3 linked regions of the Homo sapiens genome follow. The protein of the gene in region 1 purifies or fractionates together with the protein of each later gene. This does not show direct contact. Each region holds a gene or a part of one and is shown on either strand. Other genes may lie near its edges. The genes, in order: RABL2A, MTO1 and ALMS1.

Evidence for each region.
Region 2: the proteins of RABL2A (region 1) and MTO1 purify together in Homo sapiens (affinity purification with mass spectrometry, with the first as the bait; 2 studies listed by BioGRID). This does not show direct contact.
Region 3: the proteins of RABL2A (region 1) and ALMS1 purify together in Homo sapiens (affinity purification with mass spectrometry, with the first as the bait; 2 studies listed by BioGRID). This does not show direct contact.

The regions. Positions count from the first base shown.
Region 1 is NC_000002.12:113,621,064-113,631,643, reverse strand, and holds the start of RABL2A (rab-like protein 2A), read right to left. Parts: upstream 4,379-10,580; 5' UTR 4,244-4,378; exon of another isoform or gene 4,176-4,243; intron 4,030-4,175; exon of another isoform or gene 3,091-4,029; 5' UTR 3,038-3,090; coding exon 2,931-3,037; intron 1-2,930. UniProt on the Homo sapiens protein: Plays an essential role in male fertility, sperm intra-flagellar transport, and tail assembly.
Region 2 is NC_000006.12:73,464,737-73,475,008, reverse strand, and holds part of MTO1 (5-taurinomethyluridine-[tRNA] synthase subunit MTO1, mitochondrial), read right to left. Parts: intron 8,801-10,272; coding exon 8,601-8,800; intron 8,521-8,600; coding exon 8,403-8,520; intron 1,645-8,402; coding exon 1,355-1,644; intron 1-1,354. UniProt on the Homo sapiens protein: Component of the GTPBP3-MTO1 complex that catalyzes the 5-taurinomethyluridine (taum(5)U) modification at the 34th wobble position (U34) of mitochondrial tRNAs (mt-tRNAs), which plays a role in mt-tRNA decoding and mitochondrial translation.
Region 3 is NC_000002.12:73,380,174-73,390,933, reverse strand, and holds the start of ALMS1 (centrosome-associated protein ALMS1), read right to left. Parts: upstream 5,099-10,760; 5' UTR 5,066-5,098; coding exon 4,742-5,065; intron 1-4,741. UniProt on the Homo sapiens protein: Involved in PCM1-dependent intracellular transport. Required, directly or indirectly, for the localization of NCAPD2 to the proximal ends of centrioles.

The sequences.
Region 1 (10,580 bases):
CTGCAGCTTAGCAGAGAACCAGCTCGGCAGGCCTGAGCTCAAAAACAGAGCAGGCCTACCTCCGGAGGCTCTAGGAAGCTGCCTCTGTCACTGTCACATACACAGATGTTCCCTGTCTTCTTTTCCCAAAAATATTTAGAGTAGGCACTGGTCACTGGTGGCCTAAGCACAACTCCCTCAGGATAATGAGAGCTTGGGACCCAGGGAGTCACATGGTGTGACCTTTCTGCTTGTAAGTTTCCCCCATCACTCTAGTCTGTACTCACACCATGTGGCCTTAGTTTTGGGTGGGGGGGGTGTGCCTTTGCCCTCTTTGCACAACGATGATAGGCAATCATTAACGGTAATGGAAGACCCTAAAGGCCAAGTTAGACAGCTATCAAAGAAAAAAGACAACACATCTGGACCTAACTACTCTTAAAGATGGAATCAGAAAGCCACGTCTTGTTGGCTGGGTGCGGTGGCTCACACCTGTAATCCCAGCGCTTTGGGAGGCCAAGGCAGACAGATCACTTGAGGTTAGGAATTCCAGACCAACCTGGCCAACATGGCAAAACCTCTGCTAAAAATACAAAAAAATTAGCTAGGCATGGTGGCGCATGCCTGTAATCCCAGCTACTCAGGAGGCTGAGGCATGAGAATTGCTTGAACCTGGGAGGCGGAGGTTGCAGTGAGCCGAGATTGCCCCACTGTACTCCAGCCTGGGTGACAGAGCAAGACTCTGTCTCAAAAAAAAACCAAAAAAACAAAAAAACACCATGTCTTGTTATTAAGCAGTATGATCACCTGGGGTCAAAAGAAATCTGGTCGGGTGCAGTGGCTCACACCTGTAATGGCAGCTCAGGAAGGTGGCATGTGCAGGAGCAAAGGAAAAGCCTTCCACAGGAGGCAGTGCCCAGGTCTGAGGTCACCTGTTCACAGGGGGTAGGGGAGCTGTCATCAGAGCCCACCAACAGAGCCCTGAGTGGAATCAAGAAGCATGAACATGCTGCATGAGAAAAAAAAAAAAAGGCACCTTAAAGAAAGCCTGGTGACTGGGGCTGCTACCGTGGTAAATTTCTGAACTCTGCAAGAAGGCCGCACTGCCACAACATTGCTATCTAGAAATGAGGCCGTGTACAACTGACGCCCTTCAGATATGATGAACACAAGTGTTAACTTTTTTTTTTGAGACAGGGTCTTGCTCTGTCACTAGGCTAGAGTGCAGTGGCACAATCATAGCTCACCACAGCCTGATGTGTCAACCTCTTAATGGGTGTTTTAGCCCAACCGAGTTTAGATTCATAGGTTAGAGATACTGAAAATTGGCAGTAGTTCTTGAGTCCAATCAAAACTGAACCACAGTGTTCTCATGCACTCACCTTCCCTCAGATGCACTGTTTCCATCATGGTCTTTGTATCTGGGACAACCTTTTGCCTGAGATACTGCTAGTGGATGAAGACTGGCTTGTTTTCTAATTGTTGTGTCTGTGGAGGCCAATGTTATGGTAATCTTTGACGTCAAGTTAACTACTTGGATTCTTATTTTTTGTTACTGTTTGAAATGAGGCATATAAAGAGACTAGCATTGAACTTGGGAGCTGGGTATACCAAGATACATTCTCCGAAAGCTCTGTTTGTTATTAAAGTGGCAATTTGCTCTACACCTGCCTGCCATTTCTATTCTTTGTTGTTTTAAACTTGAGTGGGGATAAAGGGGGTATTATTTATTGGGTAACCTTCCCAAACTACAACACCTACCCTCACTTTTACTGTACAGGCGTGCTGTTGAGGATGGTCAAAGTAACTATAAAATACTAAACCAGAGGCCGGGCGCGGTGGCTCATGCCTATAATCCCAGCACTTTCGGAGGCTGAGGTGGGCGGATCACGAGGTCAGGAGATCAAGACCATCCTGGCTAACAAGGTGAAGCCCCGTCTCTACTAAAAATACAAAAATAAAATTAGCTGGGTGTGGTGGCGGGCGCCTGTAGTCCTAGCTACTCGCAAGGCTGTGGCAGGAGAATGGTGTGAACCCGGGAGGCGGAGCTTGCAGTGAGCCGAGATCACGTCACTGCACTCCAGCCTGGGGGACAGAGCGAGACTCCGTCTCAAAAAAAAAAAAAAAATTCTAAACCAGAGCTGCAGTGTGTGATTGTGTGGTGGGGAAGAGAGAGAGAGAGAGAGACAGAGAATTCAAATTCATGGAGATGGCCTAAAAACCAGCAAAGCCCCCAGAGAATTATTCACAGCTACCTGAGTCAAAGGACTTGACTATAAAAATGAAGGTAGAAACCAAGGTGGGCCTGGAGTACTTGGGAGATAAACGTGACCACTTCTCTGGGCAGGGGCAAGTGTACCGTCATGCTATGAAGGCGGAAATGGACATGTGCCCTCAGCAGTCCTAGGCGTGAGAACTAGGACGTCTCATGGAGACAAGCTGGCAGCACGGCAGAGCCTCCCTTCACCTCTCCAGGTGGCATGTAGGCACCGAAATTCATTACAAGAAGAAGCCAGTCTTCACAATGATTATAGTCAATCGTCAGTTCTACCCAGTTTTCTCTATTTCAGAGAGTCCCTCCAAGAAAGCATCTTTACCACCTTTACCCAATCTGTCACGGTGGCATAGTCACTTTTGTCTTTCCATTCCCACTCCCCGCCCTTGCCATCCCTCAGCCCACAAACCACATACAATGTCCTCAGTTGCTCCACACGTTCTCTCAGGGCTCAGAGGAAACATTCAAATTCCTCAGTCCTTATGACCTGCCCCCTCCACCCGACACACACAACGGGTCATGTGATTCCCCTCGTTCCCCCATGAACATCTGGGCTCCAGCCAAGACTGCTCCTTCACCAGCCCCAAGAAGCCATGCTCCTCTGCCTCTGGAGGACTTTTTAAATGACCTGGACCCTCTCTGGGGCTGGTATTTATTCCCTAATCTCCCAACATACTTGGATTTGCCCACTGCGCTGTCTCCCAGGCAGATGATCTTCACGTTGTCATCAGCATCATACTTCCCTTGGTCCAACTCACTCGGTTTGGTTTTGTCTTCTGCCATTGGCTCCTAGCTGTAGAGAGGGGTCCAGCCCAAGGGAGGGGAGGGTATTGTCACTGTCTGGGAAGATCAACAAGAGGCTGTTGTCAGAGATAAGTCCCCTCAACCAAATCTCCAGCTGTACCTCCATCCAGACTGCTTCCCTCAGTGCCAGACTGAGATATGGTATGCAATTGGCTACTAGACTTGGAGTAGCAGAGGATGACACACAGGCATCAGTAATATGTTATACACAAATAGTTAAGTCCTGCGCACCCCAAATGCTGCTCCTCACGTTACCCATTTGCACAAGACATTCACCAGGCATCCAGTGCCAAAGGCTGTGTGCAACATTATGTCTAGCTCTGTTTTACTCTCCTCACACCTAAATATGACTTTGCAGACATTCCTGAGAATGTAACCACAGTCCAGACTCTTAGCTAGGGGGGCACATAGAAATGATATGATGATGAGATAGCAGCAATAGGTGAGCCTTACTGGGCATTCACCATGAGCAGACCTTGCACAGGGTTCAGAGGATGGAAGACACAATGATAGCAGAGTCTACTGTGGTGAGAGCTACGACAGAAGTATGCACACGGGTCAGGGGTAGAAAATACCAACAGGGCCCCCGAGTTTTCCTGACTGTGCCACCACACAGCTACTGCTTCTGCACAGCCAGGGACTTCGCCTTGTTTATCCAGGGAGACAATTCCTGGGAAGTGGCAGATGCCTGGAAAGCATGATGAGGGGTCTGCCCCCTTTCACCTGTACCCTGTAGAGAGAGCGACAGAAAGCCAAATCCAGCTTCATGGCTCCATGCTTGAAGACGTTCTTTCTTTTGTTTAGAGATAGGGTCTCACTCTGTCGCCCAGGCTGGAGTGCAGTGGCGCGATCACGGCTCACTGCAGCCTCCAACTCCTGGACTCAAGCGATCCTCCCTCCTCGGCATCCCTGGACTATAGGCGTGAGCCACCGCTTACGGGCGAAGACTTGCTTGTCGATGTCCTCGCCATCTAAGTGGGTATGCTATCTTTCGATAAATGTTTTTGGCCACCAACCATGTCCAGGCATCGCCAGGCTGCCCGTCCCGCCCCCCACAACAGCCTCGCGAAGCCACCTTTCCGTGCTTCCCCCGACCCGGACGCCCTCTCGCCCACACCGCTAGGGAGGCCTCGGAGGGGCTGTCCCCGCGTGCTAAGCCAGCCACCGGGGCGGATTTGCCCTCACGTGCGGTTCCGAGTGAGGGCTGGAGAGACCAGGGACGCTGCGGGTCGGCCCCTCGGGCCCTGCCGCCAGTCTGGACTCTGCGCGCTCTCGAACCACCCCGCCGGCCCAGCTCGCACCGCAGCGCACTCCACTTCCGGCTCGCCCCGCGTCCTCGCAGCTGCTACGCAACCGCGCAAGGACCCCGAGGGAGGCTGCCCGGCCGAAGGCCTGAAGGACCCCGCCGGGGCGCTGGCTGCCCAGCGCGGCGCCTGGCGGGAGGGCCGCAGGGAGTGCGCATGCGGCCGAGTGCGGGACTGGGGCTCCTGGCTGTGGGTGTGGTACTGAGGCTTCAGCGGGTGCCGCCCGCCTAGAGGGAGTGGAGCGGTGAGCACGTCAGGGGTGGGGGGCGCAGGTCAAGCTTTCACCAGTTTTTAATTCTTTGATGGGGTAAATTTGAGCAATTTTCTCGACTTGTCGACATTCGTTATTAACTGAGCAGGAATCAGGAGAGGAACCCGGTCCTCTCCACACAGCCCAGCAGGTACGCCGCCCATGTGCCTGTGGAGAAGAGAGGTTCCTGTGGGGCAGACAGGTGTGGACCAAGTAGCTGTGAAATTTCTTCTGAAGAAAACACACAAGGAGGAAGCGAGTGAGCTCAGTGGAGGAGGGGCGCTACCCCAGGGGACGTCCCCATGCATGGGCTTGTGAACCTCGAATATGTGAGACGGTCTCAGTCAATTTAGAAAGTTTATTTTGCCAAGGTTGAGGACGCACGCCCGTGACACAGCCTCAGGAGGTCTTGACATGTGCCAAAGGTGGTCGGGACACAGCTTGCTTTTATACATTTTAGGGAGACAGGAGACATCAATATATGTAAGATGAACGTTGGTTCCCTCGGGAAAGGCGGGACAACTCGAAGCAGGGAGGGGGCTTCCAGGTCACAGGTAGGTGAGAGACAAACTGTTGTATTCTTTCGGGTTTCTGAATAGCCTCCGCAAAGGAGGCTATCACATATTAACCTATCTCAGTGAGCAGAGGGGTGACTTTGAATAGATGGGGAGGCAGGTTTGCCCTAAGCAGTTCCCAGCTTTTTTCCCTTTAGCTTAGTGATTTTGGGGCCCCCAGATTCATTTTCCTTTCACAGGCTAGACAGCTTTAGGAACTGAAAGGTTCACGAGGCTGTAACGAAGAGTCGAGTTGCTCCAGGTGAGCCTGGGCCACAACAGCAGGCAGGACCTGGGCGCCCACGAGGGGCTCCTGGGAGGGTTCGGGAAAGGGATGTGTGAACCCTATCTGAGATGGTTTCAGGTAATTTAGAAAGACGTGCACCCGTGACACAGCCTCAGGAGGTCTTGACGACATGTGCCCAAGGTGGTCAGGGCACAGCTTGGTTTTAGGGAGACATGAGACATCAATCAATATATGTAAGAAGTACGTTGCTTCCATCCAGAAAGGTGGGGACAACTGGAAGCAGGGAGGGGGCTTCCAAGGTCACAGGTAGGTGAGAGACAAAGGTTGCATTGTTTTGAGTTTCTGATTAGCCTCTCCAAAGCAGGGAATCAGATATGCACCTATCTTAGTGAGGAGATAGGTGACTTGGAATAGAAAGGGAGGCAGGTTTGCCCTGAGCAGTTCCCAGCTTGACTTTTCCTTTAGCTTAGTAATTTTGGGTCCCCAAAATTTTCCTTTCAGAGAGCCTACGACTAGATTTGCATCTTTACGTCCTGCGCGGAGGCTGCTACACACATGCAGAAGTCATGCTGGTGGCCTGGACATTGAAGGGAGAGAAGTGGATTTGGGAGACATTTAGGAGGTAAGATTGCTAGGACCTTGGTGATAGCTTGGACATGGAGGGTGGAGGAGGAGGGGTGTCTAGCATAATGCTCTTAGGTTACCACCTGGGATATTAGGGAGAGTGAGCAGGCTGTTTTTTGTTTGTTAGGCAGAACTTGGTTTTGCGGTGCAGTAGGGTGCCTGGAGCCGAAAGCCTGACTTCCTCACACAGGCCAGACCCCACATGTGACTGCCAGGCCACTTTGAGGCTGAGAGAGATGGTTTTGTCTGGCCTCTGTCCTGCACATGTTTACGGATGACCTCTGTGTTGGCAGATTTGGGGGTCCGCCAGATAGGATCCTGTGAAGAGACCTCAAAGGTCTTTAGTCCAATCTATAAAACATTTTTATGTTGATTATATCATTTCCACAATCAAAGATGAAGAATATATACAGAGGTGTATTTAGTGAATAAGGTTGATGGTGCACCTGCGCTAGGCAGTGTTTTAGTTCGTTGAGACACCAAGGAGTTGAGACAATCCTTTCTTTACCTCAGAGTTTTGTGTGTGTAAGTCCTGCTGTTGAGAGGTGTGTGTGTTAAAATGTCTGATTTGGGCAGGTGAGATCTGGGCCCTCTGTAAGGTTAGGTAACAGGAGGTTGGTGTCCAGCAAATATTCAGTGCCCCATCAACATCCCAGTTCTTGTCCACCAATCTTCCAATTCTAGGACTGATGCGGAGGCCCTCAGAGCGACTTCAGAGGAGAAGTAGTATGCTCTGTGGCTATCTTGTTTTGGAGTGTAATTTGTAAATCCTCTGCAAACAAAACGTTGGAAACAAGTAGTGTTTTGGCTTGAGTTTCCTGTAAACGGCTTACAGTCGTTGGGTTAGGGTTGGGTTAGGGTGATGGTGAGGGTGGGGGGTGAGGGTTAGGGGTTAGGGTTAGGGTAGGGTCAGAGTTAGGGTCAGGGTCAGAGTCATGGTTAGGGGTTAGGGTTAGGGTCAAGGTCAGGGGTTAGGGTTAGGGGTTAGGGTTTAGGGTTAGGGGTTGGGGTTAGGGGTTAGGGGTTAGGGTTAGGGGTTAGGGGTTAGGGTTAGGGTTAGGATTAGGGGTTATGGTTAGGGTTATGGTACTGTAAATAATTTCACATTATTACTAATAATAAATTATTATTTGTATTACACTATTACATAATGTAAAGGCTATTAAGACATGTTTGTCTTCAAAGAATGGCCTTGGTTTCTGTGGGCAGTGTCCTCATGGAAAGGTAATGAGTTCCTGCTAAATCATGGACAAAACGGGCTTCCAGGAGCTACAGGCTGCAGCAGCAGCTTCTCCTCTACGTCCTTCACTGCCTCATACTGTTGTTGACTTTGAAAGCTTTTTTCAGTCTAGTTTTATCAACAGCTAGTATTTTCATGAGGTTCTACTACATACCATGTTCCAGAAAGCTAAATGCCTTTTGTTTGTTATTATTCACTAAATACAAATCACAACTCTCTCCTCATTACTCACACAACAAAATTTAGCTGAGGGAGACTGAGTGACTGTCCCAGGGTCACACAGCTACTAAGAGCAGAGTCGTGTTTAGATTCATGTGGGAATACTGAACACAGACATGAACCAGTGGAAACATCCTACGTTCCAAAAGCCTACTCAAGCCATTTGTTCTTATTTTAAGGAAAATCTTTATGCTAATTTTAAACTCCAAATACTTATGAATGGCAGAGATCTACAGATTTGATTCTGATGTAAGAAATGATGGTCACCAGCTGGTTACTGCTACCACCCCACAACCCCGAGCATACTGGACGAATGTCTAAGCCTTGTGGTTAGTGGGGACAATGCTGGTGGAGTCTGAAGTTGTCATGCAGTGACTCATGCAAGCTTAGGCAGATTTGGTGATATACGACACAGAGATGCAAAGAAATGTTGTAGCTGACACACACCGGCTGGCTCTGGGAGATGCAGAAGGAGCACGTCACCCAAAATAGAGCCAGACAGACATCCTTAAGGAAAGAGCCAAGGGGCTGCATCTTAAAGAATGAAGAAAGGATTTGTCATGAGAGATGGGACAGGAAGTTCTTGAGAGGCAGAGGGAGATTGTGAGAATGTTGGGAAGGGAGGAGAGATTCTCGCACATCTGGGAAGCTGACAATCCATCAGCATGTCCAGAAGGAAAATAAGGAGGAGGAGCAGAAACAGATGAGGCTGGATATAGAAGCAGGGCTGAAGCTGTGTCGATTGTGGTAAAGAGTTGCGATTCTATCCAGAAGGCAATAGGTAGCATTCTAAACAGAGATCTTTTAAAACAAGAGTCAGCAAATATTTTCTGCAAGGGGCTAAGTGTTAAATATTTCAAGTTTTCCAAGCCATATGGTCTCTCTCTCAATGACTCTGCTCTTCCATTATACCGTGAAAGTAGCCAGAGACATTATGTAACACATGTATTGGCTGTGTCCCATTACAACTTTACTTACAAACGCAGACTGTGTCAGACATGGTCCATGCATGGTAGTTTGCCACACTCTGTTTTAGAAAGCTCAGGTTTATGATGTGATGGAGAATGCCCACAAGAGCTCTTGTTTTAAATGGTAGAGTGAACATACACTGGAATTCTATCCTGCTTGACCCAAGCTCTTGATAGCGAAAGGTAGAAAAGATAGATGGTAAACAGATAGATAGATGATAGATAAAGAAAATACATAGCTGTTCCAGAAAACAGAAATGGATAACTTCATGAACCAAAAGCAGAGTAATATACTTTAGAAAGGAAGCAGGCCAGAAAACCCACAGTTGCAAAGCAAATAGAATTTCCAACTGCCTCTTGTAGCCCCTTCCTGGAAGTAGTCACAGCCCAGGGTGTTTGACTTCTTCCTCTGTTTTTTGTTTGTTTGTTGTTTGCTTTTCTCTGGGGTTTTTGTTGTTGTTGTTTGCTTTTTTAAAAAAAAATTCCCTTTCCCTGCTTTTTTGTCACAGCAGCCTTTGTCACTTCAAACACCGCAAGTGTTCTTTAAAAAAAATTATATCAACCTTTCAATTAAAATGCAACATGTCTGAAACTTGGTATCTGGAGAGGTGAGTTGGACAAAGGAGCCCTTGTTACTGCATGTTTTCATTCTTCAAATTTCACCTTGCACGCAGTAACAGACAGTGCACAAAGCCACTTCCTTATGGACGGAAATTCTGAAATCCTTTTATGCCTGGCCTTTCCATCCTTCATCTTCCCCTCTCCCACACTGTGAAGGATCGTATTGGACATTTTTGTTTTAATGTCAGTGACAGGGGAACACAGGTAGCTCTAATATAGCTGTGACCCAGATGCTTCTGTTTCTAGCACGTATTTATTTTGCAGCAAACATTTACATCCATGATGTTTTACTGTTTTTTGAAAATAATTAGGCAATATCTCATCTGAGGTAGGATGTTTCTAGGGGTTGTGTTCTGAGGGAGGAAAACTAATCTGTTCTCTTTCCACTGCATTCTAGGAACAGTAAGAGGACCTTGTGCATGAATAATTTGTTTCCACACTACAGAGTGGGTAATAAGCAGATTAGTAAAAACAATTCTGCTTCACTTCAATAACAGCCTCCTCCAACTCATTTTTTCTCAACAAACTTATTTTTCCAGCAGAAGAATCCCAGTCTTCTTAGAGAACCCAGTGACTTTTTGCACCTTAAATCTGTGAAATCCTCATGTTTTCTTCTGCCGTATCCATAGTTCAAACAAAGATGAGGCAAAGCTAGATGCATTCCTGAAGGAACCCAAGAAATTCCTCTCTTTATTTCTCTGGAATGAAATGAATTCTCTAGACGACCAGTTCTAACCTTCAAAAACCAAACCTGTTTGTGAGATCTCCTTCAAATACTACTGTAGACCCCAGTGTTTATTCATTAAATTTTAAAATATTTGTTTTATTTGGAATCCATGTATTTGTAATTTTAGTGTTTGTATTAATATAAGGGAGAAATGTTTAAATCTGTCTATGCCATATGTGCCTCTGGCTTATTGCCCAATTAATTGTAGCCTCAGGCTAAACTTTGGTTTCTGTCTTTAATTTTTGTCAGAAGAAATATAACTGATCTCAAAACATCTGCTTTTATTGTAGGGGCTCGTGCTGCCATCTCCATTCCTCTCTCTTTTCTTGCAATCTGGGTGGAAGTTCTTTAATATGAACATTTCAACCACCTTCATTCTACCATATCCACTATCAGCACATTCAAACTTATCCAGCCAAGGCTGTCATCTTAGGCCAGGGATTTTTTAGGAATCTATTATGCTGTGATGCGGCTGGCACCCCTTTGACTCACTGTATCACCCCAGGGTTCTTTTCATTTCAGAAGCCCAAGAGGGCAGAAAAAGAAGTAGGTGAGCAATTAAACCCTCTGAGTCAGGAGCGTCTCACCTTGCGTTAAGCAATGTTGTAGAACATTGTGTTTAGCAAGCTCCTAGCAGATGAGCCACGTGGCTGCTGAGCACACACGCCTGCTTGCTGCTGTGAGCTCAGGCACCATCAACATGTCTTTTCCATCTCTGGAGGGAATTGTAAGGGCCACTTAATAACCTGTAAATCACAGAGAGTTAAA
Region 2 (10,272 bases), on another chromosome or scaffold:
CTGAGGAGGGTGGATTACCTAAGGTAAGGAGTTTGAAACCAGCCCGGCCAACATGGCAAAACACCGTCTCTATTAAAAATACAAAAATTAGCCAGTGTGGCGGCAGGAGCCTGTAATCCCAGCTACTCAGGAGGCTGAGGCAGGAGAATTGCTTGAACCTGGGAGGCGGAGGTTGCAGTAAGCCGAGATTGCGCCATTGCACTCCAGCCTGGGCAACAATGGCGAAACTCCGTCTCAAAAAAAGAAAAAAAAAAAAGTCGGGTGCAGTGGCTCACATCTGTAATCCCAGCACCAGCACTTTGGGAGGTTGAGGCAGGCGGATCACCTAAGGTCAGGAGTTCAAAACCAGCCTGGCCAACATGGTGAAACCCCGTCTCTACAAAACTATAAAAATTAGCCAGGCATGATGGCGGGTGCTTGCAATCCCAGCTACTAGGGAGGCTGAGGTGGGAGAATCGCTTGAACCCAGGATGCGGAAGTTGCAGTGCACCAAGATTTCACCATTGCGCTCCAGCAGGGCGACAGACTGAGACTGTCTCAAAAAAACAAAAAAAAGAAATTTACGATTTATGGGGAAATACCCAATTAGCCAAGTTAGCTAATCCCTTTTAGAGATTACTTCTTTAGGCTGAGTGCAGTGGCTGACGCCTATAATCCCAGCACTTTGAGAGGCTGAAATGGGTGGATCACGAGGTCAGGAGTTCGAGACCAGCCTGGCCAATATGGTGAAACACTGTCTCTATTAAAAATATAAAAATTAGCCGGGTGTGGTGGCGCGTGCCTGTATACTCGGGAGGCTGAGGCAGAAGAACTGCTTGAACCCAGGAGGCAGACGTTGCAGTGAGCTGAGATCGTGCCACTGCTCTCCAGTCTGGGTGACAGAGCAAGTCTCCACCACAAAAAAAAAAAAGGATAACTTCTTTGGCTGGGTTCGGTGGTTTACACCTGCAATCCCAGCACTTTGGGAGGCCAAGGGGGGTGGATCCTTTGAGCCCAGGAGTTCGAGACCAGCCTGGGCAACATAGTGAAACCCCATTTCTCAAAAAAATTTTAAAAAGCCAGGCACAATGGCTCATGCCTATGGTCTCAGCTACTCAAGGGGGTTGAGGTGGGAGGATCACTTGAGCCCAGGAGGTCAAGGCTGTAGTGACCCATAATTGTACCACTGCACTCCAGCCTGGGTGACAAGGTGAGACCTTATCTCAAAAAAAAAAAAAAAAAATCATTTCTTTGCACTATAAGCAATAGTGCTATAAAGTGAACTGCTGCCAAAAAAAAAAAAAAAAAGTTACAGTACTTCCTGCTGTGAATAGCCAATACCAGCTGTAAGCCAGGTTTTCGTAAAGTATCTTACCTTAATCCATACTGTCTCATTGGTAAAGCTGAATGGTATGGATGGATTGTCCGGTATATGCTTGTTTAGAATACTGAAATTAATGGACTCTTTGGCAATTCGGGGTGGAGTCCCAGTCTTCAACCTTCCCACCACAAACCCTAACTTCTCCAGTGTCTGAGCCAATCCTATAGAAGGCTGATCCCCTAAACGTCCTGCTGGATGCGTCTCCAATCCAATTACAATCATGCCTCTCAGAAATGTCCCAGTAGTCAGAATCACACTCTCTGCATATACTGTGCTTCCATCCACTAAATAACAAGAAAAAAGAATAAAGTCATTATCTATGTATCTATGTATTTATGTATCTATGTATCTATCTATCTATCTATCTATCTGAGATGAAGTCTCACTCTATCGCCAGGCTGGAGGGCAGTGGTGCAATGTCCGCTCACTGCAACCTCCGCCTCCCGGGTTCAAGCAATTCTCCTGCCTCAGCCTCCCGAGTAGCTGAGATTACAGGCATGCGCCACCACGCTCAGCTAGTTTTATATTTTTAGTAGAGATGGGGTTTCTCCATGTTGGTCAGGCTGGTCTCGAATTCCCGACCTCAGGTGATCCACCCACCTCTGCCTCCCAAAGCGCTGGGATTACTTACAGGCGTGAGCCACCGCGCCCGGCCTAAAGTCATTTTTTAAATTGTTACCATGGATCAAAATGGAATGTGACTATTTTACATTACAACTACAGAAAAACTATCAGTCTTTAAAAACTTGAGAATCTTTTTTAATATTTTTGTTTTTTCAAGACTTATCGACATATAACAGACATATAAAAAACTGTATATATTTAGAGTATGCAACATGGTGTTTTGATACAAGTATACCTTCTGTGATGATACCCATAATCAAGCTAATTAATATAACCATCACCTCACATAGTTACACGTTTTGTGTGGTGAGAACACTTATGATCTACTCCCTTAGCAAATTTCAAGTATATCATACATTATTATTAACTGCAGTTACCATACTGCTCACTAGATTGCTAGAACTTATTCAACTTACAGCTGAAAATGTATAACCTTTGAGCAGTATCTTCCCATTTCCCCTACCCCAGACAAAGAATTTTAAATGAGTAAGAAGGCTAATATGTTATCAATCTCAATCTAAGCAATCTAGGAGAGAGAATACAATGTGTTATCACCAATTCACATGTACCTAAAATCATATCAGCACTAAAAAGTTAGTCTCAATTAATTTAAAAAATTAATTAATTTTAGACTTCAGGATAAATATGGCATACAACCTCTCATTTCTTCTCCCTTCTAAAACTCAAAGAAAATTAAATAGGGGAATAAAAAAGGTATAAAACCAAAAGGACAAGTAATGAAAAAGAACCAGTCAGAAGATGAGAAATTTCAATGTATTTTTGAAAGATAGAAAGTGTTTGGAAGAATGGTAACTCATCTAGCAGAGGGGAGATAGCTATAACTTAAGTATTAATATCTGAAGAGAAGATATATCAATGAGAATGAACTAATTTGCCCTGCAAAGGCTCAGAAATTAGAGAACTGAGAATAAGAACTGAGGAGGAATGTAGAAATGAAACTTGGAACAGAAAATGAAAGAAACAGCTGAAATTTACACATTAAGGTTTTGTCCTCAGATAGCTCTACCTTACAGTAAAATGGAGGTTTATTCTTCAGGTAATGGGGACTTTTTGTTTAATGGGTACAGAATTTTAATTTGGGATGATGAAAAAGTTCAAGAGACCGTTGGTGGTGATGGGTGCACAACACTGTCAATGTACTTAATAGCACTGAATTGTACACTTAAAAATGGTTAAAATGGTACATTTTATGGTTTGTATATTTTACCACAAAAAAATTGTTATTGTTGGGCCTATAAAATATGGACAGGATCACAAAATAGCATTTAAAGATATTAAATTAAATCGGCCAGGCTCAGTGGCTCATGACTATAATATGAACACTTTGAGAGACTGGGGCAGGAAGATCACTGGAGCCCTGGGGTTCAAGACCAGTCCTGGCAACATAGTGAGACCCCCATCTCTACAAAAAAAAATAATAAATTAGCCAGGGGTGGTGACACATGCCTGTGGTCCCAGCTACACAGGAGGCTGAGGCAGGAAGATCACTTGGGTCCAGGTGGTCGAGGCTACAGCGAGCTGTGATCATGCCACTGCACTCCAGCCTAAGAAAGAGGGAGAGAACTTGTCTCAAAAATAAAAAAATAAACAATTTAAGGGTATAAACATAAATACTAATAAAAACAATATAACCATTAAATCTGGAAAATAAAGAAAGTCGGGGGAGAAAAGGAAATGAAAGTAAAACTAATTTAGTAATTGTTACTTGAGGGAAGTCAGTGAGCATATTATATTATATATAAAATCATAGCTTTTAAGGTAACCATCGGAACAAACCCACAAACTTAAAAAAAAAAAGCATGGCCTCCAAAAGCAAAGCAAACACAGATTAAGTTTTTTTTTTAAAAAAAGGTACAGAGGAACAGTGTGTATAATATGCTACGATTTTGTGAAAACAACAAAAAATACATATACATATGCATGAAGACATGTACATATGCCTAGGTAGAAAGACCACACAACAGATTAACAAAGCAAATGCTCCTGAGAAAGAAAACTGGCTGGTTGAGGGGACAAAGTGAAGGAGACAGACTATCTTTTTTTTTTCTATTGAGACAGACTCTTGCTCTCTCACCCAGGCTGGAGTGCAGTAGCAAGATCTCAGCTCACTGCAACCTCCATCTCCCAGGTTCAAGTGATTCTCCTGCCTTAGCCTCCTGAGTAGCTGGGACTACAGGCGTGAGCCATCATGCCTGGCTAATTTTTGTATTTTTAGTAGAGACGAGTTTCGCCATGTTGGCCAGACTGGTCTCAAACTCCCGACCTCAGGTGATCCACCTGCCTCGGCCTTCCAAAGTGCTGGGATTATAGGTGTGAGCCATAATCACATAATGCCCATAATGCCCAGCTAAGACAGACTATCTTTTCACTCTATATGCTTTTTGTAGCCTTTAAGTTGTTGGCCCTAAGTATGTATTTCCCAATCAAGAAAATTAATAAATCTATAATAAAAATGAAAATGGGAATTAAGATATGTATTTTAAAAGATGACACTCCTGGGCCACGCGCGGTGGCTCATGCCTGTAATCCCAGCACTTTGGGAGGCCGAGGTGGGCGGACCACAAGGTCAGGAGATCGAGAACATCCTGGCTAACACAGTGAAACCCCATCTCTACTAAAAATACAAAAAAGTAGCCGGGCATGGTGGCACGTGCCTGTAGTCCCAGCTACTCGAGAGGCTGAGGCAGGAGAATCGCTTGAACCTGGGGGGCAGAGGTTGCAGTAAGCCGAGATCACGCCATTGCACTCCAGCCTGGGCTACACAGTGAGACTCTGTCTCAAAAATAAATAAAAAGAAAAAATAAAAATAAATAAATAAATAAAATAAAATAAAAGATGACACTCCCTGGCACAGCCTCTCTTACCATTTTGTTCCCAGAACGCTAGTGGGTAGCCATATTACTCTCTTAGGTGGAAAACTGATTCTTCTGAGAACTAACAGACATTGATATTTGAGAATTCACCAAACCAAAAGGCTGGTTCAAATCTTTTCTTTTTTTTTGAGACGGAGTTTTGCTCGTTACCAGGCTGGAGTGCAGTGGCACTATCACGGCTTACCACAACCCGCACCTCCAGGGTTCAAGTGGTTCTCCTGCCTCAGCCTCCCGAGTGGCTAGGATTACAGGCATGTGCCACCACACCTGGGTAATTTTGTATTTTTAGTAGAGACGGGGTTTCTCCATGTTGGTCAGGCTGGTCTTCAACTCCCAACCTCAGGTGATCCACCCACCTCGGCCTCCTAAAGTGCTGGGATTACAGGCGTGAGCCACCGTGTCCAGCAGTTCAAGTCTTAATCACCACCAGAATCAGCCAGGCAATAAAATTAACTGTGTACACACAAATCTTCCAGTTAAGTGTTTTAGCGCCTTATTTATTTATTTAGAGATGGAGTCTCACTCTTGTCGCCCAGGCTGGAGTGCAGTGGCACGATCTCGGCTCACTGCAACCTCCGCCTCCTGGGTTCAAGCGATTCTCTTGCCTCAGCCTCCTGAGTAGCTGGGATTACAGGTGCATGCCACCACGCCCAGCTAATTTTTTTATTTTTAGTAGAGACAGGTTCACCATGTTGGCCAGGCTAGTCTCAAACTCCTGACCTCAGTGATCCGCCCGCCTCAGCCTCCCAAAGTGCTGGGATTACAGGCGTGAGCCACCATGCCCGACCTAGTGCCTCATTTAAAAATGTAACAGGCTGGGCATGGCAGCTCATGCCTGTAATCCCAACACTTTGGGTGGTTGAGGTGGGAGGATCACTTGAGCCTAGGAGTTCAAGACCAGTCTAGGCAACACAGGGAAGCAACATAGGGAGATCCCACGTCTCCAAAAAAATTGAAAATAAGCTGGGTGTGGTAGTGTACACCTATAGTCCCAGCTACTTGGGAGGTTGAGGTGGAAGGATCACCTCTGGGAGGTGGAGGCTACAGTGAGCGATTATAGTGCCACTGCACTCCATCCTGGGTGACAGAGTAAGACCCTGTCTCCAAAACCAAAAACGCAAAGAAGTCAACAGAAAACCAAAGTTCGCTAGATACTTAAAGGAAGTTGTGTACATGAAAGAGAGCAGCCCAAACACATAAACAGAACTAAAAAATCTGGAGAAGGCCAGGTGTGGTGGCTCACCCCTATAATACCAGCACTTTGGGAGGTGGAGGTAGGCGGATCACTTGAGGTCAGGAGTTCAAGACCAGCCTGGCCAACATGGTAAAACCCTGTCTCCACTAAAAACACAAAAATTAGCTGGGCGTGGTTGCTGCTGTCTGTAATCCCAGCTACTCGTGAGGCTGAGGCAGGAGAATTGCTTGAACCTGGGAGATGGAGGTTGCAGTGAGCCAAGATCGTACCACTGCACTCTAGCCTGGGTGACAGAGTGAGACTCTGTCTCAAAATAAATAAATAAAATAAAGCAATTATTAACTCAAGGCAAAACCAAGCATAAGAAAGGGACAAACATAATACACTTCCATGCAGTAAACAATACTTAGTCAATAATGTAAATACTATCAACCAAAAATTACGGTATAATTATATCAGAAGGAGAGAGGGAAGGAAAATTGGACATTAAAGAGAATTACCATAATAATAAGTTAATAGGCTGGGCACAGTGCTCATGCCTGTAATCCCAGCATTTTCAGACGCTGAGGTGGGCGGATCGCTTGAGGTCAGGAGTTCAAGACCAGCCTGACCAACATGGTGAAACCCTGTCTCTACTAAAAATACAAAAAATTAGCCGGGCATGGTGGCAGTCGCCTGTAACCCCAGCTACTTGGGAGGCTGAGGCAGGAGAATTGCTTGAACCTGGGAGGGGAACGTTGCAGTGAGCCAAGATGGTACCACTGCACTCCAGCCTAGGCAACAGAGCCAGACTCTGTCTCAAAAAATGTTAATAGATGGCTGGGTGCGGTGGCTCACAGCTGTAATCCCAGCACTCTGGGAGGGCGAGGCGGGTGGATCACAAGGTCAGGAGAACAAGACCATCCTGGCCAACGTGGTGAAACCCCATCTCTACTAAAAATACAAAAATTAGCTGGGCATGGTGGTACGTGCCTGTAGTCCCAGCTACTCAGGAGGCTGAGGCAGGAGAATCGCTTGAACCCGGGAGGCTCAGGTTGTGGTGAGCCGATATCGCACCACTGCATTCCAGCCTGGCACAGAGTGAGACTCCGTCTCAAAAACAAAAACAAAAACAAACAAACAAAAAAAGTTAATAGATAATGTCTAGAACTGTAAATTAGGAAGTAAAAAGATAAGCCTGCTATTCAGAAATATGGAAGTATATACAATAAGTGACAACTAAAAAAGCTGAAGTGTCTGTCTCCAGGGAAGGAGATGGTTGTTTTCCCACATAAATTTCTAAATTTCTTTTATATTTATTTATTTATTTATTTATTTATTTTGAGACAGAGTTTCGCTCTTGTTGCCCAGGCTGGAGAGCAATGGTGTGATCTCGGCTCACCACAACCTCCGCCTCCTGGGTTCAAGTGATTCTCTGGCCTCAGCCTCCTGAGTAGCTGGGATTTCAAGCATGCGCCACCACACCTGGCTAATTTTGTATTTTTAGTAGAGATGTGTTTCTCCATGTTGTTCAGGCTGGTCTTGAACTCCCAACCTCAGGTGATCTGCCTGCCTTGGCCTCCCAAAGTGTTGGGATTACAGGTGTGAGCCACTACACCCAAACTTATTTTTTATTTTTTTTTGACACAGGGTCTCACTCTGTTGCCCAGGCTGGAGTGCAGTGGCATAATCACAGCTCACTGAAGTCTCAACCTCCTGGGCTCAAGCAATCCTCCCACTTCAGCTTATTGAGTAGCTGAAACTACAGGCACCTGCTACCACACCGGCTAATTTTTGTATTTTTTTGTAGACATGAGGTTTTGCCATCTTGCCGAGGCTGGTCTCAAACTCTGGGGCTCAAGCAATCCACCTACCTCGGCCTCCCAAAGTGCTAGGATTACGGGCATGAGCCACCATGCCCAGACCCTTTTAATATTTTAAGAAAAAATTATATGCATGAGTTATTTTGATAAAAAACATACATAACTCTTTTACATAAAAATATATATAAGCTGTTAAAATATGAATTTTTTAAAAAATTAAAGTCAGAACCAGAAAAAACAGAAATTACAATAGAAAGATGGGGAGAGAGGGAGACATAAATATGCAGATTACAAAGTTCTACACTAAGATGGAACATGGTACTGATGAGCCTAGAATTTGACTGAGCATCATAAATGCCAAGATGAAAAGAGAAACATATTTATTTATATAGTTTTCCTCATCCAGGTAGAGAAAATGCAACAAGTTCCTTGAATAAGCAACATATCTCCACACTTTGCTCTAAAATAAATTTCTCACATGGAATTTGATATGCTGTTATCATACACCATCTATAACCAATACGTACCCAAAACAACCCCACTGACACGGCATTTCCCAGTGTGTTCAGGCTCTGGTTCTGTAAGAATAAGATCTTCTACAGCTCCCTCCTGAACAGTAAGCAGTGGTGTATTCAAGATTTCTTTCTGTCAAAAGAAAATGCCAGTTGAAACATGGTAATTAAACAATCACTATAATCTTTCCTGTGCTCATGCCCTATTCTTACCTGCATGTTCTGTTTATAGAGTTTCCTATCAATCTGAGCTCTCAGACCCCACACAGCTGGTCCCTTACGCCGGTTTAATACTTTATAATGTACACCAGACTGGTCACAGATGCGAGAACACAGGCCATCCAAGGCATCTACTTCCCTCATTAAATGTCCCTTTCCGATGCCACCAAAGGAAGGATTACATGACATCTGACCTAAAGATAATAGACATAAACAAAATAAATATATGAGCACCTTGCACATAGTGACTACTTAATAAGGAAACATTTATACAGGTGACTATAATCATCTCATATGATAAAAAATAGAAAACGTGAAAGATATACTACAAAGAAAATCCCAAAGACCCAATGGGATGCAAAAGTGTCCAGGGCAACCTGGATGACAAACCACTTCCTGAACTTCCTTTTGTTTTTTTTAAGATGGAGTCTCACTCTGTCACCCAGGCTGGAGTGCAGTGGTACAATCTCGGCTCACTGCAACCTCTGCCTCCTGGGTTCAAGCGATTCTCCTGCCTCAGCATCCCGAGTAGCCGGGATTACAGGTGTCCGGCACCACGCCTGGCTAATTTTTGTATTTTTGGTAGACGGGTTTCACCATGTCGACCAGGCTGGTCTCAAACTCCTGACCTCAGGTGATCTGCCCACCTCGGCCTCCCAGAGTGCTGGGATTACAGCCGTGAGCCACCGCGCCCGGCCTGAACTTTCTTTTGAATCTCTTCCTTGATGCATATTTTTACTGTTTCACTAGGTTGCCTTTTCCTTTCAAACATGTAATCCTTACCCCATGAAACCTTTCTAAACCAAGTATACTTGGTTTTTAAATTTGTTCTTTTTTGATACAGCACCAGAGGAATCTACCAAATCAAGCACACTTGTAAGAAGTCCCTAGTCCTTCAACATAAATAAGGACAAAAATAAATAAATAAATAAAAAACAGGGCCGGGTGTGGTGGCTCACGCCTGTAATCCTAGCACTTTGGGAGGCCAAAGAGGGTGGATTGCTGGAGCTCAGAAGTTTGAGACCACCCTGGGCGACACGGTGAAACCCCGTCTCTACTAAAATACAAAAAAATAGCCAGGCATGGCAGTTTGCACCTGTAATCCCAGCTACTTGGGAGGCTGAGGCAAAAGAATCGCTTGACCCTGGGAGGCTGAGGTTGCAGTGAGCCGAGATGGCACCATCGCACTCCACCCTGGGTGACAACAGTGACTCCATCTCAAAAAAAAAAAGAAAAGAAAAAAGAAAAAACAAAGAAGCCCCTTGGCACTGGTTCAGTTACAACCAATTATGTCTTCCATAAATGCCATCTGATATCTCCTTTTTGCACTTACTTTGCAGAATTAAATATAATTAAATTACAAATTTCTTGTGAGTGAAGACCATATTTTATACCTTTCCCTTACATTTACCCAGTCTTACCTGGAGGTCTAAACCCATGTGGTTACCTCAAAAGTTTTTGTGGGAGGTGGAGGGATGGGCAAGTTATGTCAATATCCACATATCCACTGCCACCACATCAAGAATCAAGACCTCCAAAAGTTTTTTTTTTTTTTTTTTTTTTTTTTGAGACAGAGTTTCGCTCTTGTTGCCCAGGCTGGAGTGCAATGGCACGATCTCAGCTCACTGCAACCTCCACCTCCCGAGTTCAAGTGATTCTCCTGCCT
Region 3 (10,760 bases), about 40 Mb from region 1:
CTGGGCATGGTGGCGCGCATCTGTAGTCCCAGCTACTGCGGAGGCTGAGGCAGGAGAATCACTTGAACCCGGGAGGCGGAGGTTGCAGTTAGCCAAGATCGGGCCACTGCCACTCCAGCCTGGTGACAAAAGCGAGAGACTCCATCTTAAAAAGAAAAAAAAAAAAGATTTCCAAGCACTGTTGATGACCCAATTAAAAGTTGGAGACCAAGAATTTCTAGTGATGCCAACCCAGAGAACTGAATTATCTTCCCCAGCACAACTCAGAAATTCAGGTTAAGGAATTACAAGAAGTGCCTGAATGGTCTGTAGGACCAGCATAAAAACAACATAAGGCTCTGAATCACTCACTTCCCTCTTAAAAAGACTTAGTTATAAGACTGGTCATATTTTGCTTCAAATTTAAACAGTATCATAGTTTAACTCAGCCTTAGTAACAGGACTACAAACTTAATCACTGCCTTATATAACACCACTATAACTCCCTTATTATCTAGTGAGATATGAGAGTAAATTGAATAACACAATTTTGTCATTTAACTTGAGAGTAAACTGGATGAAATTAATGTTTCCTATTATTTGATCTCATCCTCTAAATACGCAGCATTAGATGTTATACAACACATCTAAGAATTTCATAGTTCATAAATTTCTAGCAAGAAACATACTAAGCATTTTTTCCTTAAACACTTTCCAACCTATGCCAGTAAGTTTCAATATGCCAGTGAACTAAAGGAAAAATTATCTGAACACTCCTTGTATCATTGTAAATCTACCTTTAATACAGAAAATCATCTATATATTCTATATATTATCATATATTCTCTCAGGTAAATAAGAAAATATCTAATTTTTCTCAGGGGAAAGAAAAAACTGTGGGGAGGAAAAAATACTCTGGGCTCTCAGAAGTAAGATTTTCTATTACCCATAGATAGTTCACGATTAGAGGCCGGGCGCGGTGGCTCATGCCTCTAATCCCAACACTTTGGGAGGCTGAGGCAGGCAGATCACAGGTCAGGAGTTCAAGACCAGCCTGGCCAACATGGTGAAACCCCATCTCTACTAAAACTACAAAAATTAGCCAGGCGTGGTGGTGGATACCTGTAATCCCAGCTACTCGGGAGGCTGAGGCAGGAGAATTGCTTGAACCCAGGAGGCAGAGGTTGCAGTGAACCAAGATCGTGACACTGCACTCCAGCCTGGGCAACAGAGCAAGACTTCATCTCGGCGGGGGAAAAAAAAGATAGTTCATTATTAAACAGGAAAATAATTTTCTCACATTGGCTGTAGTAAAAGAGGGTTAGCTTAAAAATTCCTCCTCTGGGTCCCTATCTCTCACCATATGCAAAGATTAACTCAAGATAGATTAAAGATTTAAATGTAAGGCCCGAAATTATAATAATCCTAAAGAATACTTAGGAAAAAAGTTTATGATTAAGACCTCAAAAGCAAATGCAACAAAAATAAAAACAGACAAATGGAACTTAATTAAACTAGAAGAGCTCCTGCACAGCAAAATAAACTACCAACAGAGTAAACAGACAACCTACAGGATGGGAGAAAATATCTGCAAACTATGCATCTGACAAAGGACTAATATCCAGCATCTATAAGGAACTCAAACAAATCAACAGGAAGAAAAAACAAATAACCCCACTAAAAAGCGGGCAAAAGACTGAACAGACACTTCTCAAAAGAAGACATACGAGCGGCCAAAAAACATGAAAAAATGCTCAACATCACTAAGCATCAGAGAAATGCAAATTAAAATCACAATGAGATACCATCTCACACCAGTCAGAATGGCTATTATTAAAAAGTCAAAAAACAGATGTTGGCAAGGATGAGAAGAAAAGGGAACACGTATACACTGTTGTTGGGAATGTAAATTGTTCAACTCCTATGGAAAGCAGTATGGAGATTTCTTGAAGAACTCAAAACAGAACTACCATTTGACCCAGCAATCCTACTACTGGGTATCTCTCCAAAGGAAATTAAATCATTTCATCAAAAAGACATCTGAGCCAGGCACACTGGCTCACACCTGTAATCCCAGCACTTTGGGAAGCCAAGGCGGAGTATCACTTGAGCCCAGGTGTTCTACACCAGCTAGACGCCATTAAAAAAAAAGAAAAAAATCTGTGCTCATATGTTTATCACAGCACCGTTCACAATAGCAAAGTCATGAAATCAACCTAAGTGTCCATCAACAACTGAATGGGTAAAGAAAATGTAGTATGTATTAATATACATTGTGGAATATTATGCAGCTATAAACAGAATGAAATCCTGTCCTTTGCAGCAACATGGATGGAGCCTGGAGGCTATTTATCAAGTGAAACAATTCAGAAACAGAAAATCAAATACCACATGCTCTCACTGGTAAGACAAGTGGGTACAATGGGTACACAGAGGCATAAAGATAAATGGGTACAATAAGTACCCACAGACATAAAGATGGAAATAAACAGACACTGGGGGCTCCAGAAGGAGGAGAGAAGGGCTGAAAAATTACCTATCAAGTACAATGTTACACTATCACGTACAAAGGTATATTATTTGGGTGAGAGGTTCACTAGAAGCCCAAACCTCACCATTATGCAATATATCCATGTTAATTACGTGCATATGTACCCCCAAATCTAAAATTAAATTAAAATTTTGTTTAAAAAACTCCTCCTCTAGGCTTCAAGATAAAGTTTGAATATTAATAGTTATTCAAGCAAGAAGTCACAGGACAAAATAAAAGTTAGAAGACCTAGTCAACAAGTGTGGCTTTAATTATGGTCTCTATGTAAATGACTTACAACTTGAAATCTCTAGCCCAGCCTTCTCCTTCAATCTTCAAAACCAAACTCATAATCTTAAGACTCACCCAACCAATTCCACCACCCACTCACAGCCACCACCTCCACCATAAATCTGGCCATATCTTAATATTGGCACAACCATTCAAACAATAACCTAACACCTGGCTACTTCACCTTTCACATCCCATCCGTTATTAAGTATGATGATTTTGCCTCTTAAATATCTCTCAAATCAGTCCACTTTTCCCTGTATCCACCAACACTTCCCTATTCCAAACTTTCATCATCTTTTGCCGGGCAATGCTGCAATGGTCTCCTAATTTATGCCCTTGACCTATGGCTACTGCTCCCCATCCCACCTTGCTATCACAGCTGTTCCACACTCTGCTATACACCTGACCTTTCTGAAACACCTAACTTATCATACATCCCCTCGTTTCAAATATTTTCTTCAACTCCCCAAAGCTCCAGAGATAAAGCCCCTAAATCCTTGGCATAGCACACAAAGCCTTGCAGTCTGTGCTCAAACCACGTTGGCTTCTGGGTCCTGGAAAATGCCATGCTCTCTCTCATCAACAGTACCTTTTCATGTGTTTTTCCCTCAGCTAGACGGCTCTTTCCCTCCCCTTTGCCTGATTAACCTTAAACTGTCTTCAGATATCAGCTCTATCATAACCTCCTCAAGAAGGCTTTCCCAACTTCACTGACAAGGCCAGATTATCTTACTTTATGCTTTCATAGAATATTAGCACATATATTAGTTTCACTTTATGTGATCATCTGAAATCTGTCTGCCTCCCTGTCTAGACCATGAACACAAGGAAGGCAGAGACCAAAAATGTTTGGGTTCACCAAGCTTTCCTTAGCACCCAGCACAATGTGTGGCACATGGTGAATTCTAATAATACATGTTCAATGAATTAAGTACCCCCTGGAATATTCACCAGACAAAACAACAACTACTGCTCATTAGTGACAAAACTCTACACCTTCACTGTCTGTGATGATGGAACTGTTCCATTATCTGCTCTGTCCAACATGGTAGCCACTAGCCTAGTGTGGCTGCTGAGCACTTGAAAACCGGTAAGAACAGACGCATGGAATTTTTCATTTAATTTATTTTTAACTCTTACTCAAAACTATAATAGTTTTCTCTTTAAGATGTAAAAAGCCACACGTGGCCAGTGGCTACTGTACTGAGCAGGGCAGGTCTTGCTCCTCGAAAAGCAGTAAGTTAAAAAAAGGGGGGTAAGGGCAGCAAATTAAATGGAGAGTTATTTTCAAAATGATCTTCGGGGGTCTACCATGAAATCGGCTTTCTCCATTGTGTATTATCTGTGCTTTGTAGTTTTGCAGACTGTTTGGAGCCGCATCACAAGCCTCCTGCATTCCAAGCCCCTCCTATCGGCTGGGGAACCCCTTTATTGCTACAAATGATGGTCCAGGGGAGGAAAACCCGCGGGGAGCCTCTCCAGACTAAGTGATCGCGCGGTGTACATTATCCACATTACTCCCTCAGGGGAGTCCTGCAATTCAGTCAAGCTCATCTGTTCACTGTCTCCCCAACAAGATGCTCCCCAGGCAACCACTCGCTCCGGTCCTACACCGCCTTTTCCCTCCTTCAAGGCTCGACACACCCGTGGTCCTCTCTCAGCGTTTCTCACGGGGAATGCAGGCTCCCCTGAACGTCTACGGGAGTTCAAAAGGCCCAGGACCCACCGAGGGGGAGGAAACGAGAAGTCTTTGCCACAAAGCCTGGGAGACGCGGAGCAGCCGGCCGGCACCTGGGCTGGAGTCTGGGCCGCCTACTAGCCTCAGCTGCGCGCGTTTTCTCCGTCAGGCGGCGTGACCTGCGGGCGGGCGGAGCGCTCGGGGCCCAGCCTCCACCCCCAACTCGCCGCGGCTCCACACCCCTCCCCGGCCCGCCTCACCTTCTCCAGGGAGGTCCGCTCGCCCTCCGAGTAGCGGTGCTGCGGGGGCGACAGCGGAGGCAAAATCCTGCCGGGGTGCGCCTGCAGCCAGGCCTTGGCCTCCTCGTCCTCCTCGTCGTCTATACTTTCCAGATGCTGGGGCCCGTAGTGAGAGTCGGAGTCCAACTCCCGCCCCGCCTCTTCCTCCACCTCCTCCACGACCACTACGTCGTCCACGTTCGCCGCCGCCGCCGCTGCAGCCTCCTCCTCTTCCTCCTCCTCCTCCTCCTCCTCCTCCTCCTCCTCCTCCAGCTCGCCCGGCCATGGCAGATCCTCGGGCTCCATGTTGGTGTCTCGCTCTGGGCGGCAGAGGAGGAGGAGGAGGGGGGGAGGGAGGGGAAGGGGAGAGCCCTGACTGGCGGTTGTGGCCCAGCTTAGGCGCAGTGCCGCCCGCCTGGGCGGGGCCGGAAGACCGCGCGCGCGTTGCTAGGGACGCCGCGCGAGGCCCGGCGGGAACGCCTTAGGGCGGAGGTTTGCTACAGGCGACGTTGCCGCCTCGCCGCCGTCACCGGCCGGGACCTTGCGAACTGTACTGTAAGCTCACAATAAACCGGGACTGGGCGCCTTCCGGGGCGCAGAGGGCCCCGCGCAAGGACAGTGTAGTTCTCGGCTGGGGTCGAGTTTCGCCCCTGCACAGAGAAGAGATCAAACTCTAGGACGTACCCGTTATAATCACACATGCAAATTATAAAGTTTTAAAGGTTGAGTATCTCCTAAAGTGTCAAGCTGTATGGTGGGCGCTTGAACCTAACCGTGGAAAAGTGTCACGGGTTGTTAGAGGGATTAAGAACTGGGCACTGGCATCAGAAAGATCGGAGTTTGAATCCTGGCATCACCACTTAAAGTGGTGTGACTTTGTGTTTATAAAACGATGATAATAGGCCATCGCATAGGATGGGTGTGATAATTAAAGGAAATAATCAATGTGAAGGACTTAGTGATAGGTTGGTTATTGTACAATAACTCATTAGATGCTCACGGTTCTGTGAGACAAGTATTACTATTTCATGTATGAAGAATCTGAGGCTAAAAAAATTAATTTGCCCAAAGTTTCTTACCTAGTAAGTGGCTGACTCAGTATGCCATCCCAGGTCCTCTGTTAGTGTAGGAATTGCCCTGGCCTAGACCAACCAGCTGTTAAAGGATAACAGAGCAAATATTTATACTGATAGTACATATGTTTTGGTGGTTCGTCAATGACTTTGGAGTGCTTTAAAAACAAAGATTTCCTGACCGCTTCAGGAACCTCTACGAAATGAATGGCAAATTAAAGTATCTTAAGATGCCATGTAACCAGACACCACCTGTACCCCCAATAACCTATGGGGAAAATTTTTAAATTAAAATTTTAAATAATAATTATAATCTTGAGATGCTTCACTGTTACCAAAGGAAATAGCCATAATTAAAGTGGAGTCCAGCAAAAAGTCTTCATGGTATTACCCACAATAGTAGAGATACATTGATAATGATGCTGAACCAATGTTGGTGGGGCAATTTTAGGGTTATTGCCAAGGATGTATGTCCTGCCTACCTGTCAATGACCCAATCCTGGCAAAACTTTAAGGGTAGAACATGAACTGGAGCCCAGTCTTGGAGTTCTGTTGAACACCTCTAAATGGACTATGAGTACATTAGGGTTATTTATTCTTAAGGGGTTTAGGGGTTCTCCTTGCCGGAGACCTATTACTGTAATAGTAGAAAAGAATTTATTAATTTTGTATTCCTGAATGTGAAATCTCAATGTTTATCTCCAGTAAGAGGACACACATTTCACTGATATTAAATAACTGTAAAGCTTTACCTTTTTAGAAACTCCGCTATCTTTTTGCATCCACAAATTTCAGGAAAGATAAAGAGAACTAATAGAATTCTAAAAAATAGCTTTCAAAGTTCTCTAACTTCCATCTAACTTCCAAAGCCCAAAGTACTTCTATTTGCCTTGATGGCAATAAGGTCAGTCCATTCTAAGGCCCATAAGTTATCTCCTTCTGAGTTAATAACAGGCTTCCTCATGTATTTGTGAATTACTTCCAATACTAGATGCTACTAATATAAGCTGTTATCACTAATTGCTGCAGGAGACTTCTAAGATTAACTCCTGCTTTATCAACAACAGATGGAAGCTGCATTCTCAAAGCACCCACCTAAGCAGCTTCTGAAGTTAGAGATTTGGTCTTCTGAAAAAGCATTAGAAAACAATTTCCCTTGAGCCTCAATGCAAGAAAAAAAAATGTCAGGTACTATCAACAACTGACCCAGGAGTAAAACTAGAAGACATTGATCCCTGGATTCATATTACACAACTAAAAAGACATGCATCATTTTCTCCTGGCTACCGGACATCCCATACTATTGGAAGACCTCAAACTGAAGATTCCTGGGACTTCCCCAGAAGCTGCTTACTGCAGAAATGGGCAGTTTATACCCAAGACAACAGGACAAGATTAATTTCTGATTCCTTGGCATCTCTTACCCTACCACTAATCTTGCTTATTGCATTTTGACACCCTTGATTAACTAACAAATTGATTTCTCGGGGAGATAACCCTTATCTTCATCCTGTTACTTTTGACTCCCTATGTTCTACTACTTAAAGTAAACATTATTTGGCCAGGTGCAGTGGGTCATACCTGTAATTCCAGCACTTTAGAAAGCCAAGGTGGGAAGATCACTTGAGACCAGGAGTCTAACTAACGTAGGCAATGTAGCAAGACCCCCATCTCTAAAAACAATAAAAAATTAGCTGGGCATGGTGGCACGTATCTGGAGTCCCAGCTACTCAGGAGGCTGAGGCAAGAGGGTCCTTGAAGCTCAGGAGTCCAAGACTGCAGTGAGCTGTGATCGTGCCAATGGGCAACAAAGTGAAACCCAATCTAAAAAAGAAAGAGAGAAAGGGAGAAGAGAGAAAGAGAAAGGAAAGGAAAGGAGGGGAAAGGGGAAAGGGAAAGAGAAAGGAAAGGGAAGGAAAAAAAGAAAAGAAAAGAGACACTTTCTGGAGTGTTTTTCTCAAACCGTAGCTACTGCTTTTAAGGAATTGTTGACAAAATTTAATAACTGTGCTTTCATAGACTTCATCAAGTAGATTTTCTTCTGTAGGTCACTTCTGGTACTTAAGCATTCCCCACAAAGTTCATCCCAAACCTCAGTCTTCTAAAAATTGGACCTTGACCTACACTTCAACAGAATGTTTCCCTGAAGTCATTACAATCCTATGAGAAAAACCTAGCCCTTCAGGAATAGAAACTAATATTGGGGCTATTCTTTATACACTACTCAGGTCATTCTCTTCCAAAACATTCCAGCCTGCTTTGGAGAAACCTGTTTAACTTCATCCAAGAAATCTGCTTATCCTGAGGGAAAGAAAGTTGGCTTGTCCCTGATGTGCTAAATAGCCCTTATCCTCCCAATGCAGTCTGTACTCCCCTAGGGTACTACTTATTTATGGGAACATCTGGCTTGCCCACTAACTTACCCTTTATATTGAAGCTAATTGTTAGAGACCCTCCAGTGCTTAAAATTACCACCCCTCCAGTAGACTGTGTTTCTTTGAAAAGAACACCCAGAAACCAACAAAATGAAGCAAGCACACAATCACAGACTACTTGGGAGAACTCCCAGGAGGGATAACTGACTCATTTTTCATGTGTACTCTGTGAATGAAATTCCTACAACAAAGATAATACAACAGAAAGAGATCAGATCCAAGAGAGGTATTTGACCTTAGCAGACCCCATAGATAGCAAAACTTCTGCTATAGCAGCTCAGAAAACCACTTAAATTTGAATTCCTTAGCCAGAGTTTTCATGGATAATTATATAACCCTTGATTTCTTCTTAGCTGGCCAAGGAGGAGTTTGTATTTAGCAACACTTGTCACCATACTCACATACTACTGGGCCAGTAGAACATACTACAGAGTCAGTAGAACATGAGTAAACTGAAAAGAGAAAATCCTCCTGGCTCCCTAAAAACAGACTCAGCTGGATTCTGGGGCATGTTTTCATTGCCAGGACTTTATAATCTGGGTCCCTGTCTTCAAGACTTTTTACAAAGATGGATAATCATTTTGTTTCTGGTAATTGCTTCTTTTGCACTTGGTCAACGTATCCTATCCACAGCCCTAGTTTCTGCACAGCCATTGTCATATCATATGATTCAACAAATCCTACAACAGAAGGCGGAATTAACCCAACTACAGACTGCATCCTCCAGATCAGCATAAATTTAGCAATAGTGAAAATCTGAATATCATAGATTAATGGTCCTGTGGCCTGACTTTGTCTACCCTTGACCAACTGGAGGACTCACTAAATAAATCTAGGGTGCCTGGGAACTGGTCTGACACAGGTAACTAAGCCTCAGGGTTGTCACATGCTGGCCTGGCATTCACCATCATCCCTCAATATTCTCCTGTTGAGCATAAATAATCTCACAGAACACCGACATCACACATGGTCTTTCTGTGACTGAAGAAACGAGACATGACAAGACCATTTCATAACCTTGCCTAAGCACAGACAAAAACAACGTTACTGTGCACATCAAACACCCTCCTTTTCCAGTTAATTTGATGGCTGTTTTTTTAAATCAATTATAGCTCTACCATCACTGTGGTTTGTTTTTTTTTTTTTTTTTGCTGTCACCTAGGCTGGAGTGCAGTGGCACGATCATGGCTTACTGCAGCCTCGACTTCACCAGCTCCAGTGATCCTCTCACCTCAGCCTCCTGAGTAGCTGGAACAACAGGTGTGTGCCACCGTGCTCAGCTAATTTTTTTTTTTTTGGTAGAGATGGAGTTTCGCCATGGTTCCCAGGCTGGTCCTGAACTCCTGGGCTCAAGCAGTCCACCCGCCTTGGCCTCCCAAAGTGCTGGGGTTACAGGCTTGAGCCACTGTGCCCAGCCCATCACTGTATTCTTTTCCTCTGAATAAAATTTATTAAGATGCCCAATCATAGAATTACTCCCTCATCTTGACAGCATCCAATACACAGAAAAGCACTGGCCTTTAAAACTTGCCCCCTAAAATCACCTAACACAAGGCAAATCCTATAACTCCTAGTAACATCCCAATATGGAGATCTCTCATGATCTCCCATGGTGTGCGTTCTCCCTTGTTGCAATGAATAGTGAAACCAACACTGGGTTGCTAGAGAACATTGACACATTAAACTAAAGGAAGCAATTATGTAAGTTCTAGTTCTACCCTGGTTTTAATTTTTTATCTTTTTTTAGGCATAAGGTCTTACTATTGCCCAGGCTGGACTCAAACTCTTAGGCTCAAGCAATCCTCCCACTCAGCCTCTTGAGTAGTTGGGACTACAGGCACATACCTACACACAGCTTGCCAGTTTTAAACTTCCCATGAGTGGAATGTATTCCTAGTTACCAGAATCCTGGTTTCTGTCCTGAAGCACAGTACCTCCTGATCAAAGGTTTACTGAGTACTTTCTAGGTTCCAGGCACTGTACTAGGAAACAGGAATGTTGCCTGCTGGTACCAACCTACTATGGCCAAGCAAGTGCTCCTAATGATGTTTCCCTCTAGTAGCAGCAGGTATTAAGATGCTGCTGCCAAAAGGAGCTGAGGGTCCTGAGAATGGGAAAAGATAGGTGGAGGCCCATATGGAACATGAGACCTACCCATATACTTTGAACAGAGGATCCTATACCTGGGACTCATGGTGCAGGTTCCTGGCTATCAATCCCCATAGCAGGACTGCACCAAATGAGTACATAAAAACGCCAGACAACTCAAAATGGAGCAGATTCCTGCTGCCCCACATCTAACTTGCCCACAGGCCCAAGAGACTGCTCAGACTAGAATTGCCTCTCTCGTGGTGCAGCCCTTTCTTCATCTAGGGGCCAAAAGGCAATGAAAGAAGGAGCAAGGGCAGCATGCCCTCCTTTCCCCCTCCTACATCCATTGTTATTGCTGCCACCTTCTTCTCCTCCTCCTCCTTTTGCTTCTCTTCCTCCCCT